Linked DNA regions of Homo sapiens: region 2 is linked to region 1. Evidence: fine-mapped expression QTL. Tissue or cell type: whole blood. Region 1 holds a variant in brackets; the other region holds the start of a gene. All regions are shown on one strand. Distances are between the middles of the regions. Region 1 overlaps BNC2 (basonuclin zinc finger protein 2). Region 2 holds the start of BNC2 (basonuclin zinc finger protein 2).

Region 1 (8,337 bases):
AAATAGTGAAAAGATTGTACAGTTCTGTTATTGATAATGGTTTAGAATTTAACACTGAAAATGCTGGATTTTCTTTCCTCTTATTAAGTTAATGTATTACTTTGAAGCATCTTTTCTTTTTTTACAGTTAGAAATTCACCAAAACTATATTTCAAACGTAGCTCTTTTTAATTTTATACTAAATTAATTTTTTTTTTTTTTTTTGAGACGGTGTCTCGCTCTGTCTCCCACGTTGGAGTGCAGTGGCGCGATCTGGGGTCAGTGCAAGCTCCGTCTCCTGGGTTCACGCCATTCTCCTGCGTCAGCCTCCGGACTGCAGGTGCCCGCCACCGCGGCCAGCTAATTTTTTTGTATTTTTAGTAGAGACGGGGTTTCACCGTGTTAGCCAGGATGGTCTCAATCTCCTGACCTCCTGATCCGCCCGTCTCGGCCTCCCAAAGTGCTGGGATTACAGGCGTGAGCCACCGCGCCCGGGCCACTAAATTAGTTTTTATAAATTCTGCATTGTTTCTGTCATATGGTAACTTAAGTATGCAGAGGCATTGAACTTGAACATTTTGTGTTCTGGAACGTGGGGTTTGGATTCTTGGTATAATTTTCCTATTTTATTTTTATTTTATTTTGAGACGGAGTCTTGCTTTGTCGCCCAGGCTGGAGTGCAGAGGTGCGATCTCGGCTCACTGCAAGCTCCGCCTCTCAAGTTCACGCCATTCTCCTGCCTCGGCCTCCCAAGTAGCTGGGACTACAGGCCCACGCCGCTACACCCGGCTAATTTTTTGTATTTTTAGTAGAGATGGGGTTTCACTGTGTTAGCCAGGATGGTCTCGATCTCCTGACCTTGTGATCCGCCCGCCTTGGCCTCCCAAATTGCTGGGATTACAGGTGTGAGCCACCGCGCCCGGCCAATTTTCCTATTTTGAAAACCCAACTACCGTGGTTTCTTTCTAATGCGTATATTATGACTTGTAGCATTTGAAAAGCTCCATGGTCTAGGCCATGTGACTTCTGAGGACTGTAACTGTAAAAAAGCTGGTGTTGAATAATTAAAAACTCCCTCCATTTTAAAAAAATGCCCATTTCTCTTAGAATTTTTATGGTGTCAGTCAAATTAATGCAGGTATGTTTGGTTTTAAGAATAACATGATAGAAATCCGAATTTACACTGATAGGCTGCCTAAGAGAAAGTTATTTCAAAACATGGGGCATCCTGGCAGTGCCTGGGAAGGTTGGCCCCCAGCCCGACTGATAGGAACTTCCTACTCATCAGTTCGCTGTGAAGTACTGACAGGTGGAGGGGGTTTAGGCTTCTTTGGGTTCTGAACCTGGTGATGCTACTACCTACACAGTGTTTGGAAATCTTGGGCGATGTTTTGTTTGTCACAAATGACTCAACTGGGGGGCTGCCTCCTGCTATTTAGTGGGTCAGGGACACTGCAGCATCAGGATTGCAGAACAATTTACATACAGTGATGAGTTGTTCTGCCCCAAATACCAATAATACCTTTCCCAGAAATGACTGGATAGTTATTGATATAAAAAAATGAAAAATGGCTGGGTGCGGTGGCGCATGCCTGTAATCCCAGCACTTTGGCCAAGGCAGGTGGATCACCTGAGGTAAGGAGTCCGAGACCAGCCTGGCCAACATGGTGAAAACCCGTCTCTACTAAAAATACAAAAATTAGCCGGGCGTGGTGGCGGGTGCCTGTAGTCCCAGCTACTCGGGAGGCTGAGGCAGGAAGAATCGCTTGAACCTGGTAGGCGGAGGTTGCAGTGAGCCGAGATCTCGCCACTGCACTCCAGCCTGGGTGACAGAGCGAGACTCCGTCTCAAAAAAAAAAAAAAAAAAAAAAGAAAAGAAAAATATTCGTAAAAATACTACTCTTGCTCCCCATCCCTAGAATTACCACCTGACATCTTTTTTTTTTAAAGGAATGTTGATTTTTTTTAAGGTGTGTACTTGATTGAACACTGAATTCTACTTCTTAACGTTTTTAAGTAAACATGATTTGTAAAGGCATATGGATATTTTATGCAGTTGGTATATTAATAGTATTTAGTCGTAAGCCCCCAACTCAAACCCAGATATACCCGTTTTTGCAAACACCCATCAGATTTTGTGTCAGTGTTTGGTAAACTAGCACTTAAAATGTGTGTTGAAACTCCTGTCTGTAATTTTTTTTTGTAACGTAAAAAAAAAAACTTATGAGAAATTGCTAAACTCTTATAAGATTTATTATTATTATTTTTGTAGAGATGGTGACTCACTATGTTGCCCAGGCTGGTCTTGAACTCCTAGCCTTGAGCTATCCTCGTGCTTCGTAGGTGTGAGCAACCGTGTCTGGCCAAAAGATTTTTAAATGAACAACAACAACAACAAAAAACCTAAGAGTAAAAACCAGAATTTGATAAAAACAGATATTTCACATACTCGTTGCATCCTCATGGCATTATCAGTTCTGGCATTTTGACTTGGAAGAAAAATTCTAACATGAATTTCTGCTTGAATTCTAACATGAATTCTGCTTGTTTTCAAATACTATTCAATTGGGAGTAACTGTTTGATGAAAAGCGTAGTACCTAAACCTCTTCTCCTTCCACACACATTTGTAGTCTTACATGGTAAACCTAAAGTAGCTCAGAAACATTTACTAAAACCCATTTACTTGGTAATAGATTTTTCATTTATAAAAAAGGAGCTTAAGAATATGTAGGCTGGGCATGGTGGCTCACGCCTGTAATCCCAGTACTTCAGGAGGCCAAGGCGGGTGGATCACTTGAGGTCAGGAGTTGGAGACCAGCCTGGCCAACATGGCAAAACCCTGTCTCTACTAAAAATACAGAAATTAGCTGGGTGTGGTAGTGTGCACCTGTAATCCCAGCTACTCTGAGGCTGAGGCAGTGGAGGCTGAGGCTTGAGCCCGGGAGGCGGAGCTTGCAGTAAGCTGAGATTTTTGCCACTGCACTCCAGCCTAGGCGACAGAGCAAGACTCCGTCTCACACACAAAAAAGGAATGTATCTTAGTGTACACCTTTCGAACGACCATAAATGACATCTCAGTACTATCTAGTACAAACAGAATTATAACCCTGCCCTTTTTAAAGAGTATTGGCTTTGGAGTTGTAAAGACCTGAATTTGAATACTGATTCTGCTACTGAATATGGTAGAATCTTGGGCAAATTCATCTATCTCTCCATCAGTCAATTATCTATCTATCAAATCTATTTTTAATTATAGTAAAAAACAGATAAGATTTACCCTCAACTTTTTAAAGTGTACAGTTCAGTAATGTTAAATATATTCATATTGTTGTTTCATTAAAAAACTTTGAATTTTGAAATAAGTTCAGGCCTTCACTTGAGGTTATGAGTTTGACTCCAGCCTGGCCAACATGGCGAAACTGCGTCTCTACTAAAAATACAAAAATTAGTTGGGTGTGGTGGTGCACACCTGTAATCCCAGCTACTTGGGAGGCTGATGCAGGAGAATTGCTTGAACCCAAGAGACAGAGATTGCAGTGAGCCGAGATGGCACTGCAGCAAGACTGCACAGAGTGAAGGAGACTCCAAAAAACAAAGTAAAACAAAACAAAAATAAAATAAGTTCAGGCTTACACAAGAGTCAGAAAAAAAAAATACAATGAATTCCTATATAT[C/A]CTTTAACCAGATTTCCCAAATGTTAATGTTTGCCATGATTGTTCAGTTTTTAAAATGGAGATAAAATTCACCATTTTCAAGTGTATAGTCACTGGTTTTTAGTATACTCACAAGGCTGTGGAACCATCAACACTATTTAGTTCTAGAACGCTTTCGTCACTCCACAGAGAAACTCTATCCTCAACAGTAAATCCTCCATTCTCCCTCCCCAGCCCTTAGCATCTTTTACTTTTTGACCCACTGTTTTCTATAAAATAGGTATAATAATATTTATGCTGGAGTGTTTCTGAGATGACATATGTGAAAATTCCTAGCATGGTATCTGTGTAATGCAAGTGCCAAACACCCATTCGTTTCTTTTTCCTATCACAGAAACAGAAAGTATCATACTTATATCTACATGAACTATTTTGGAAATTCTAATGCCAGCATCTTTTCTAAGTGAATTTCTCTTACTAGTTTGGTAGGTCAACAGTTTGCAAGATACTAAAAATCATAGTGGAGGTTCATATGTTAAAATAACATAAGGCAAAGCAGCTTCAAAACTCCAAAAAATATGTGCATTAAATAATGTCTTGCAGGCCGGGTGTGTGGCTCACGCCTGTAATACCAGCACTTTGGGAGGCCGAGGCAGGTGGATCATCTGAGGTCAGGAGTTCGAGACCAGCCTGACCAAAAGTGGTGAAACCCTGTCTCTACTAAAAATAGAAAATTAGATGGACGTGGTAGTGCATGCCTGTAATCCCAGCTACTTGGGAGGCTGAGGCAGGAGAATCACTTGAACTCGGGAGGTGGAGGTTGCAGTAAGCTGAGATTGTGCCATTGCACTCCAGCCTGGGCAACAAGAGTGAAACTCTGTCTCAAAAAAAAAAAACAAATTTGATAATAATGTCTTGCAGACATAGGCTTCGGAAATACATCTTTTGCAATGGGCAGTCATCATGCATGCAGCTCTTTTCATGGATTAATCTTTTATTTTGAAGTATTTTATCTTTTTTTTCACGTTTTAAGTGTTTAAACATTTTCAAACTTTGTATTTTTGATTTTATAAGAAGGCATGGTGAATACCACAGTGCAGTGAAACCACTCAAGGATCATAAGGGTTCCATTGTTAACTTAAATGACCCACACAGACCTTATGCCCTGGTTTGATTAGCTTTTGATGATATGATGGTTTGATTATGGACATACAGTTTAGCCAGGATATCTACATTTTGAGGAATAATTAGTTACAGTTCTGATGGCCTCACAACATTTTTACAAATGTTTTCTAAGTATTTATAGTGTAGTGGAAGTAGCATAGGCAGTGTAGGTATAGAAAGCGTCGGAGTCCTGAGTTTGAATCCCAACTATGCTGTGGGAAGTTTGACAAGGGACAGAATTTCTTTAAGCCTGGATTTCCTCATTTTTAAATATGGAGGGTAATAACTGTCATTGCTTAGGGTTGGAATGAGAATTCAATAAGACATAGTTTGGGTAAGGATCAGCACAGTGCCTGACAAACAAAAACTCATTAAAACGGTGGATATCTTTCAGATTTGCTTATGTGTTGTTTAAAGAAAGGACTCTTTTGCCCATTAATTTGTGACCTTTTTATCTGCCTAGAACATTGCCCATGAGGTCATTTCTGCCCGTGAAGTAGAGAACTACAGTGTTCAAATGTGGAATCGGAAGAACAACGAAAATACTAATTACCCTAGCTGAGAGGTTATAGTGGTGGAACTGGTGGGATTTCAGTCAAAAAAGCTGATTTTGTTAGATACAATATTATCTACAGTTAGGCCTGTTTATTGTGGAGTGGCCAAAATATGTTATGGTATTTAAAGAGTAGTGAAGATATTTTCCAATCTGAGTGCATACATGTGGTAACCCTTCTCTGATGAGCAGTTGTAGGCTCATTTGACATTAGAACTGCTGAAATAACTATGATTGAAATGTTTATTTGGTGTCAGGTTTATAAACATTGTACTTGGTTTCTGTGGCAGGTAACAAGCATAGGAATACCAATTTTACCCAGTCCCTTGACCTGGTAATTCTTTTTTGCTTTTGGTATATCTTACCATCTAAGTTCTTGAGTCTTAGTGACAAAACTGTATAGTGTTTGTCACAGATGTGCGTATTTGGAAAGGCATACAACCACTGCAGTATTTTTGCCATCATGACATTAAAGGAAAAACACTTGTGATAGGGTGAATAAATACTTCTGAGCAGAAGCAAAGGTCAAGCTTTAGAGTGAACTTTTGAGTGACAGCTAGTGGCTTAAGGGGGAGACGCCATGTTAACTATGGGCATTCATTAACTGCGTGGATATGAAATGGCAGTAAGTTCTCTCCCCTTTTATGCCAGGGGCATTGGATTCTGTAAAAGCAAAAGGGAGAGGAGCGTATGTGGCTGCCAAAATGAGATGGTAAGAAGTTAAATGATCAGGACACAGAGAAATTAAGGAATAGTAAGGTTTAGTGGGTATGTGATAAACATTGCAGATAGGCTCTGTGGTATGGACCAGAAGGCACAAGGTCTGGATTTTTTTCTAACCCAGACTCTGTCACTGACTGCCTGTTTGATCTTTGTAACTTCTTTGGTACTTCTTTAGACCTCCTTATCTGAAGTTAAAGATGTAAAACAGTAAAGATGTAAAGAGTAAGTTAAAGATGGAAAACAGGTTTCAACTCTTATCAATATTGATAGATTGGTAAAGGCTATTGAGAAGAGAATCCTGCAGCTGTGTCTTGCTTGGGTCATTGGAAGGAGTTCTGGGATTAGTTTAGCAGTTTCTGGTGACTGTCATGGGGTGGTGGTGGGTGTGTGCTTGCAGGCATGCATGTTTGTACGTAGGTACATGCACCACACCGCATTGGTTGACTAATCATTTGTAAAAATCCTTTTCAATTCAGTCTATATATTGGAAATTACGTTTTTCTTGGCTGTAAGGTTGAGAGGATCTTCTAATCAGCCTTTAATTTTTCTGACTGAAAGCCAGTGTACTTCTAGTTTTGGGAGAGAATTACGTGCTATAGAGCTGGATGCCTAATAGGCATATAGTGATGGCGCCTAAGAAGGAATGAAATCGTTGGTCCGAGAGCTAGAGAGTGCGCAGCGTGCTTTAGACTTGCATGGGGTTCTCTTCTAACCTGCATATCTGTGTGAGTCAAACATAGTAGGTCCTTTCAGATAGGTAATCATCTAATGAGCCACAGTTAATTAAATGTTTATCATTGCTTAATATTTGGTATAGGGCATTTTATTTCTATTCTAGGATAGCTTTCAAAACTAGTAATTTGGGCAGTATTTTAGTACTACATAGAAGGAAGACTGGTACAAAATGGGTGATGGCGTGTAACTTTTACCGTATTGATACATAGCATAATATAAACATGGCATTAAAAGATGCATAGCCTTAGCAACGAGTGCTAGTTATGATTGGTTGAGCAGTATTGAAAGCAACTAAGATTACTTTCAGATATGTATATTATATACAAACTGTTGCAGAATTATTGCTTCACTTTTAAGGAAAAGAATCCTTAAGTTTCTAGTGTCTTTTATCTGAGAAAATTATCCAGAATTGTTAACAGTTTAATCCACTATGTTGGAAACTCTGTTAGAAACTTTTATGTATCAGCTCTTTCTGCAAGGAGGAATTATTAAGAGCTAACTTCTGTTAGCTCACCTCTACTGACTAGTGAAATTAGTAGTTTTCTTTCACGTGTGTTCCTTAAGAAACTGTATGTAGCAACCACATTTGTGGCACACATAGACCAATACAATAGCCTTTTTGTATTTCTTTGTATCTTTCTCAAGTACTATTAATGTTGTCCTTACTGTGGGTCAGGAGTCATGTTTTACTCATGTTGGAATCACCCAACCTAGCATAAGCCACGCATACAATAAGTACACTATAAATAATGTTGAATCCATAGTTGAAATACAATTTTACCTAAGAGCAACTGTGAGCTACCAGGTGAAGATCATGTCTACTTTGAAGTCTAAGTTGGGGAATCTGAAAACACTGGATTTACCATTATGCAGTTCATATGTGGTAGTGTGATGTGATTCTGTGGTGATCAGTTTTTACAGTGACATCCACAGAACTAAAACATTTGAGGTAACAACTCGCATTTCTTTTTTTTAACACGGAGTTTCGCTCTTGTTGTCCAGGCTGGAGTGCAATGGAGTGCTCTTGGCTCACTGCAACCTCCGCTTCTGGGGTTCAAGCGATTCTCCTGCCTCAGCCTCCCGAGTAGCTGGAATTATAGGCATGCGCCACCACACCCAGCTGATTTTGTATTTTTTCTTTTTAGTAGAGATGGGGTTTCTCCATGTTGGCCAGGCTGATCTTGAACTCCTGACCTCAGGTGATCCGCCCGCCTTGGCCTCCCAAAGTGCTGGGATTGCAGGTGTGAGCCACCATGCCTGGCCTGCTTTGTTTTTCCTGTAAAAGTCTATCTAGAATTAAACTGTCAGTATGTATTTGTACATGGAAAAAAATTCCAAAGAAACATTTTTGGTTAAAAATATGTGGTAGGTTGAAACTTGTGTACAGTGTAAATATCGCATTATGTATGCCTTATTTAAGTAGACCTAAATACCTGGTAGCCTGAGCCATCAGACTTGCATAGCTCCAAAGGGCAGTAGTGATCTTGTTAGGGTTTGGCATCTGAATGATCTGGTTGCCTTTTCCTTTT
Region 2 (8,337 bases), 28 kb before region 1:
TGCCTCAGCCTTCCAGTAGCTGGGATTGCAGGCGCACACCACCATGCCCGGCTAATTTTTTTGTATTTTTAGTAGAGACGGGGTTTCACCATGTTGGCTAGGCTGGTCTCAAACTCTTGACCTCAAGTGATCTGCCTGCCTTGGCCTCCCAAAGTGCTGGGATTACAGGTGTGAGCCACCATGCCCAGCTAGATAATTAAAATATTTACCCAGCTATTCCAGTTCTGAGGTGCAGGTGGCTGGAGCCAATCTAGACAGCTCAGGGTGCAAGGCAGGAACCAACCCTGGACAGGCCATCAGTCCCTGCAGGGCACACTCACACACACTCACAATCACTCACACTGGGACCATGTGGATACTCCAATGAACCCAAGGGGCATATCTTTGGGATGTGGGAGGAAACTGGAGTATCCAGAGAAGACCCATGCAGACAATGGGGAGAATGTGCAAATGCCACACATACAGTGGCCCTGGCTGGAATCAGTTTTTTTTTTTTTTTCTCAGCCTTGTAACAAAAGGACGTTGAATGAAACGACATTGAATGAAACGATGTTATTCAAGGACCTGCAGCACAGTTGTTTCCCTTATGGAGCTTCCATTTTAGTTGAAGAAAAATAATAAATATATAAACTAAGAAGACAATTTCAGATATTGATAAGGGATAGAAAAGGGATACAACAATAAGTAATAACAGGAAGTATGAGGGGTGTTTTGAGTGGTGGGCCAAGGGCTATTTAAACTAGAGTCTGCAGAATTGCTATTAGAGCTGAGATATAAATGATAAGAAGGAATCATTGGAAAACTTGGGAGAACACTCCAGGTAGAACAGCAGGGACAAAGAGCAGGAAGGAGCTTTGCAAGTTAGAGGAACAGAAAGGAAGCCAATGTGACTTGAGTGTAGTCCACCATGGTAATGAACAAATGGTATAAAACAGTCGAAAAAGTCAGGCAGGTTTAGATAATTCAGGTCTTGCAGGATACAAAAAGGACTTAAGGTTTTATTCCAATTGCCATACAGACCGCTAGATGAAATGAGACTATGGAATCCTCTTAAATGCTAGGCTTTGCTTCCTCCTGTAAATTCTTCCACCTTCTCCAAGTGCTGCTCTTCAGCCTAACACATGCCCCATTTTTATCATGATGACTCTCCAGAAAGGCATGAGATCCCAAACAGACGCATCTTGCCTCACATAAATTGTTTGTTATGCTAACGTCAAAAACAGACAGATGTGGAACCAATCAGGGGAATGTAAATTACAGGTCGCTTGATGTGGAGTAACTTCTGCATGTTGGTCAGTGTAGGTGCGCAGCCAAAAATGCACTGTGTGAATACAATTGTTTGGCAATTGCTGATCTGTCACTTGTCCAAAGCGGTAAGTGTGTGAATGGATTTGTATAGGTAATGATTCTGAAATTAGCAACTAGCTTTTCTCATCTCTCCATGATGCAAGAAAAACATACTGGAACTTGGCCCATTTCTGGAAAATTCTTGTGATGATCCTCAATTTTTCAAAATGCACATTTGGTCATCATTATCCCTTGTGTAATCAGTTTCTGCAAACTACAGGATGATGTTAGTTATGTTTAGAGAATAAGGGAACATGCTCTACACCTTAATCAAATCATTTAAAGATGAGCCTTCTTAGATAACACACATTTAAATATATATATATATAGATGGTCGTTGGGAGATCTAGTCTATACTTTGATTTATGCTGTAGTGAGAGAAGTAATCTTGTCTTTCATTGGAAACCTGCAGATGCAACCTGTCCCCAGAACTCTAAGGTATTTACGATAAATAATATGCGAGAAGTGTTTACCACACATTTTTCCACAACAAAATGATGCACAGAATCCACGAATGCAGAAATCTTTGAAAGGGCCAGGAAACAGTCAGGAATTTGGACCCAATCAGTATAGGGAACTGCAAGTGCGTGTTAAAAAGCTGGATCCACGTGAATAATAAGCCTAATCCCATTTTCTTTCTTTTTTTTTTTTTTTGCAGATGGAGTCTCCCTCTGTCGCCCAGGCTGGAGTGCAATGGCACGATCTCGGCTCACTGCAACCTCCATCTCCCGGGTTCAAGCAATTCTCCTGCCTCAGCCTCCTGAGTAGCTGGGATTACAGGCGCCCGCCACCACAGTTGGCTAATTTTTGTATTTTTAGTAGAGATGGGGTTTCACCATGTTGGTCAGGCCGGTCTCGAACTCCTGACCTCAGGCGATCCGTCCGCCTCGGCCTCCCAAAGTTGGATTATAGGCGTGAGCCACCGCGCCCGGCCACCTAATCACATTTTCAAGACAGCTGTGGCTACTTGGGACTCTCATCAGCGGCTCCCGAAAAATTTAAAAAAATCAGTTACTGTGAAAATTTATATTAAACTAAGACCGGACTCTGCAAAGAAAATAAAACCATGTAATTCCAAGGCTACATATTTTCAAAGGAATTTAATTCTGTCCTCTGAATGCAATTAAGTAGTCTCTCTCTCTCTCTCTCTCCGTTTGAGGAAGAGAGAAGGGAAGAAGGGATGATTCTCACTTTTCACTAGGAACCGGTAACCATACCTGCTGTTCTGCCAAGTCTTCGCCGATTCTCTGATTTCTTAGTGCTCAGGGAGTATGCTTGAAACCTATGCCTTCCTCCCATGTTAGATAACCAGAAAGTTTGCTGTAGTTATGATAAATCTGCATAACTCGGAGATGTTTTTGGCACAAAGTGTACGTTAGTTAGATGATGATGATTAAGCTCCCCCCCCACCCCCGCCCCATTCTTGCGGCCGGGGAGTGTGTTTTGCCTGTATTTAAGAAATATCGTTCAGCTGCAGGCGTGTGCGCGCTTAGGCTGTAGTCGGCGTTTCTGAGTCTCCAGGGCAGGGTGACTTGGGTCGGCTGAGTGTCACCCACAGATGTGACTGTTCTTTCCCCCGCGGGCGCGACAGCCTCCTTCCTCTCCAGCCCGAGGCCCGCGGCCCAGACCACGGGAAAGGGAAGGAAGCCCTCGCCGCAAGCCGGCGTCTGGGCCGGCACAAAACGCTCCGCCACCAGAAAAACTTTTTTCCCCCAGCTGCGCGCAACTTTTGGCCTTTTCTCCCAGCACGTTCGCGTCCCAGGTTTCTGTCCGCTGGGTTTTCCTCCGCCTCACTCGCCTTCTCCCCAGCGGCGCGCGGAGGAGCTGGGCTGAGAGGGTCGCGGGGAGCCGGGTCGGCCGCGGCTGGGACGCTGGGGAAGGGGCAGGGGAGGAGGGGGCGTGCGGGGCTGGGGAGGAGGAACTGGTCAAAGGGGACAGAGACGCCCGAGTGCCCGAAAAGGAAAGAGCTGCCGCGGTTTGCTGCAGTCGGAATAAAGTTCGCGCCCTTTCCTCGGCGTTTCGCAGCCTCCTCTCCTTGCTCCGCTCCCCACCCCCGCCCCGCAATTTTTTTTTGTGTGTGTGTGACAGCTGGGCGCTAGCGGCCACCTCTACCTCCACGCCCGCAGCTCCCCGGGGGGGGGGGGGGGCGCCAGGGTTGTTTTTCCATCCCCACAAAGTTGTTTTTTCCATCCCCAGAAAGAGAGAGCAAGAACAACCCAAACAACAAACAAGCCCCCAAAGAAGTCACGGGGCGGTGGGGGGAGGGAGAAACATACATCCTCCTTCCCCAAGCCCCTGGACCTCTGAGGACAAACAACACAACGACCGACTTTTATTTTGCAAAAGGGAAGCAACATTGTAGTCACGACAATTCTGCAGAGAGAGGAAAAACTTGTGGGGCTTGCACGGCCGCCGAGGTCACCTCGCCCGCCGGTCCCCCGCCTCCCGCGAGCAGGGCAGCCCCCTCCCGGGACAAGCCGTTCCCTTTTTTTTTTTTTTTGTCCCGAGGAGGAGCCGGGGAACCGTGCCGGCTGGGACTCGGGGCGCGAGCGCGACCCCGGCGCGAGTGTAAATCAGTCACCTGAGCGCAGAGGGGCCGCGGCGAGGGCGCGCGCGGGCGGGCGGGGAGGCGGAGGCGGCGAGAGCGGAGGCCCGGAGGAACTCGGAGGGGGAGGGAGAGAAAGGCCGAGACGGAGGGAGCCAGCGGCGGCCGAGGGGCTGGTCCAGGCGCGGCCGCTAAGAGGAGACCAAGAGGCGGGGGCTGCACTTGACAACCAGCATGCCGAGATGGTAAGAAGTTTCCACCCTCCTTCCTCTTTTATTCTAGACTTCCTCAGAAATGACCCCCGCGCCCGAGCGCCACCGGGGCCGCCCGGGGGCCGTGTCCGCCCTCCGGCCCGCGGCGTGAGGGGCAAGGGGCGCTGAGGAGGGCGGGCCGGGGACCAGAACCCCGGTCCGACCTGATCCCCGCTGCGCTCCCAGTGGCCTCCCCTAAACTTGGCCCCAAGTTTCTGAGGCGAGCTCTAGGTGGGAGGGTGCACGTGAGAGGGGGCTTCTCAAGGTCGGCCCCGCTCGCGGCTTCCGCGCGAAGGTGAGCGGCTGGCTAGGGGAGGCTCCAGGGCGTTGGGGACGGGCTGGGGGGACGAGGTGGAGGGGAGTGGGGGATGAATGGAGCGCTGGCAGGAGCTCGGGGAAGAGAGGAAGGCGGCTGGGACCTACGGGAACTTTTACAACTTGCCGCCGAGTGAGGGACCGGCGGCTGGGCGTGGGTGCCGGGTGCGCTGGGGCGCAGCCGCCCGGGCCCGGCACGTTGACTCTTCCTCTCCCCTTGTCTTCACATTCGGAATCTTCCCGTGGTAAATGGAGATGGGAGGAAATGCTCCCGCAGGCTTTACGGAGAAGGTGCAGAACGCAGGGCAGGAAAATCAACCTTGCAGAGACGGCTCTTTTCGAAGTGCAATTCTATAGGAGCCGATTTGTTTTACTTGCACGTTGACTGGAGGGTGGGATTTGGGGCCTGGGGAGGGAGCAGAATAAAAAATTATATATGCTGAAAAACCCTAGGTGAAATCTCCTGTGAAGTGAGTTTAAGGTTGAAAAAAAGTTCCAAGTGCAAGTGGTGGAGGAGATGGGCTGGCTTTGCCAAGCGAGACTCCAGCACAGCCCCTCTACGAGAAGCGACTTCTTTGCAGCGAGGAAGCGTGCAATTAGTTCGCCTGGTGATGAGCCGCTCTGTCCGCTTTCGGGGAAGTGATTTGTTAGAAATGGGGCTTGACCACTCCCTTCTTTTTAGTTTGCTTCCTCCCAGCGTCGCTATTGTTACCCCCACTTGGGGATCTGACATGGTGTATTCCGTATATAGAGGGAACATATGAGAATACAGGTGAGATAGCGGGTTGGCATTTTTTCCTCTTCCCTGCTCCCTAATGTGACATCTCTTGTTTCAGTGATCAAAGTCACAACTGGAGTGTAGGAGATGGGACTGTCAAATGCAGGGGCGCGTACACACACACACACACACAAAAGCAAGAGCCCAGGACTGTGGTTACAGTAACGCTGACAGAAATTAAAGTGGTTTTGAAAGCAGCGTGCGATTTATGATGGTTCCCATTTACCCTAGAGTCAAGCTGTTGTAAAACTGACGTACAAAAGACATCATAAAATAATCCTGTGTACCCAGGATTAAAGTGGCAAAAAGTGGCCTGTTTTATTTTTATATACTTCGTGGACACTTGGAATTGTTGAAAGCCGTGTTTAAGTGAGACATCACAACAATATTAAATATATCTGTTTAGAGCTTGAGAGTTTTTCTTCTAACGGGCGTTTTACACAAGAACACTGTAAAAGCCGGTGGCAGGTATTATTTTTCTTCCCTTTACCCTAGCCTATGTTAACTATTTGTCTACACATGTATTCCTATATCCTAATGACTTTGAACTGTGGCTAAGCCTGTCTGCCTTCCACTGCTTTGTATTCTGCAATTTCACGTGTTACTGTCCACACGCATACATGCTTTAAATGGGAGGAATTTATTTCTGGCACGTTACTTAGTGTGTCTGATCTGAAGATGTACCCTAGTAGTGAGACCTTGTACAAGTTAACAGAACATTTACTTTTTGGACAAACACACACACACACACAATCCCTTGTGAGCCTTTAGAGAGTATCTGTGTTTTATATTTGTAGCCGTTTCATGTAAACTGTTCAGTCTTAATGAAGTTCTTAGTTCCCAGAGTGCGCTGTATTAAAAGTCCAGATTGCTAATCACTTTACCAAAGTACAGGAGTATCTTTACCTGAGGGAAGTAATAACGAGCTTGAACCTGAACTTTGTTTTGAGTATCTTTTGAGAAAGGTCTGAAACTTTTTTTCCTCTTGAGAATATTAAGTTGGGTGGTGTTTGCATGTAAGACTTTGAATAAGAATAAACTGTGCATTATATTTTACAATTAATATTAGGAAAATGTTAATAGCAGTACATTCCTACTACCTGATTTTTTCTTCTATTTGAGATGTAAGATATCTGTCAGATAGAGATATGTGATTACAAAAAGAAGCAGACAAAAGCAGAGCTGACTATTGCTATATTAAAATGTAAGTGTTACAGTTTGAATTTTCAAGTGAGAGTTCTTGAGTTCAGTGCTTTACATAACATTTTGTCCTAATCTTGCTTGCTGTCAGGGATGTTTCATGGTTGTGCAATTGCTGCAGTCAAGAATGCCAATTTGCATTCCAGGAGTGTCATTTGATTACTTTTATCTGCACAGCTCCAAGACCGGCCCAGACCTCTCGTTTCATCTTGCCATGTCACGAGTCAATGCTGTGTCGTCTTTTCAAAAATCTGCCTGATTTAGACAAGAAAGAAAAGTACTTTCATGTTGCAGCCGCAGTCCCCTGCTAACTTGTCAGCAGCAGGATATGATTCACTTGGGCCCAGAAGAATGGAACAGAGAGGCGGGTTAGGCGGTTCAATAAAGCCCACGGACAGGTAGTGTGTGACATCCCCAGAGAGCCGCAGTTAATGAAGAACAGGTCTGCTTAGTTCTCCACACGCTGACCTGGTGCTGTCCCCACAGTTTTCTCATTTGATCTTTCCCAGCAAATTGATCTTTTCTTGTATTTTTTTGCCTTCCAAGTTAGTCCTTGTGGGACTGAAATTAGCAGAGCAACTTAAGTTGGATAATACAGCTGTTCAGAAAAGAAGAAATTGGACACTGGCTCAAAAAGGGGTGGGGGTGGGGGGGTAGAGGGAGCTATTCTTTTTGTTGTTGTTCCTGGGAATATTTCTTATATTAAGGGAGTCCAAAATAGATGATGACTTGAAGTTAGTGGTTTCCTTTACTTTTAATTTTACAGTTAAGGGTTCAGCACGGTTTTAAATATTCCTTAAGTATTTGAAAGATGGCCTTAGTGAATATGAGGAGTTCAATTTAGTACTGTTCACATTCACTTGTTTGAGATGATTTGCCAGTTGACAATGTGGCTTTTATGGTTATTGTAAGATGGCATACTTCAACTGTATTATTTATAGTCTTCTAAACAACCTACGATCCCCAAATATCCAATACTAAATTGCAGGTAAGATTAAACAATAAAAAAGTCATTATACTAGTATTGTGTATAAATACTATGGTACATGAAAATGTTTTCTATACTATTAGCATCTTTGTTTTATATAAACCCCACAGATACAGTTCATGAAGTGTTTTTTTCCTGAATTTTTGAGATTCTGCATTTAAATGTAGATTTTTAAAACTGAGACCAGACCACAAGTTTGAATTTCTGTGGATGTTCATACATGTTGTTGTTTTTTGACATTAAAATTAATTTTAGACAGGATGGGTAAATTTATGTCGTATGGTTTAATCTGATTAAAGTTTCACTATAGAATTCTGTACATAAAGCTTAGGTTGGAAGCAGTTTATAGATTCTTAACTTGATAAATATATAAGGAGCAACGCTTTCTGATTTACTCAGCAGATGGTCTCATTTACCATCTACATCCTTACAAGAAACAGAGTGGAAAACATTTCTTGTGGAAGGGGAGGTAGCCTCCTCAAATCTTTCCTGTTGGATGGGAATTATATAGTATCATTGGTTAGTAAAATCCCCTCTGAAGAGCTAGAGGGAGCCTCATGATTTTATTAGATATACTTAAGGTTTAAAAAACACTCTGGCCATCAGAATGTTGCACAAAAAGAGTAGGTAATGAATACTGGCTCAGTGTTGAGGCTGGGAGGTGCTATTATGGTTTTTTTTTTTTTTTTTTTTTTAAAAGTGACAGAAGCAAAAGAACTTTCTACAAGAACAGTCAAGGCGTCAGCTAAGCTTTCTAGGCTTTTGCCTTTCAGGTGATTTGAAGATCAGGCAAAATGCAACCAGATACTATATTTTAAATGTTTTGGTTTGACTAACTACTGTTTGTAGTTTTTGTCAACTGAGGGAGTTACTCTCGTTTTAGGAGGCCAGTCTTCAGAGTTCTATTAAAAGT

What was found.
Region 2: BNC2 starts here. The variant in region 1 is fine-mapped to the expression of BNC2 in whole blood (TOPMed, PIP above 0.99).

The regions. Positions count from the first base shown.
Region 1 is chr9:16,838,007-16,846,343 of GRCh38, reverse strand. The region is part of intron 1 of BNC2 (basonuclin zinc finger protein 2); the gene reads left to right. Among named protein-coding and RNA genes, the nearest start is that of BNC2, 28 kb to the left of the region's middle. The variant C/A (reference allele first, on the strand shown) is at 3,655.
Region 2 is chr9:16,866,446-16,874,782 of GRCh38, reverse strand. BNC2 (basonuclin zinc finger protein 2) reads left to right here and starts at 4,113. Exons shown (of 7, transcript NM_017637.6): 1 at 4,113-4,137. The coding sequence starts at 4,135. RefSeq lists an enhancer at 6,150-7,349.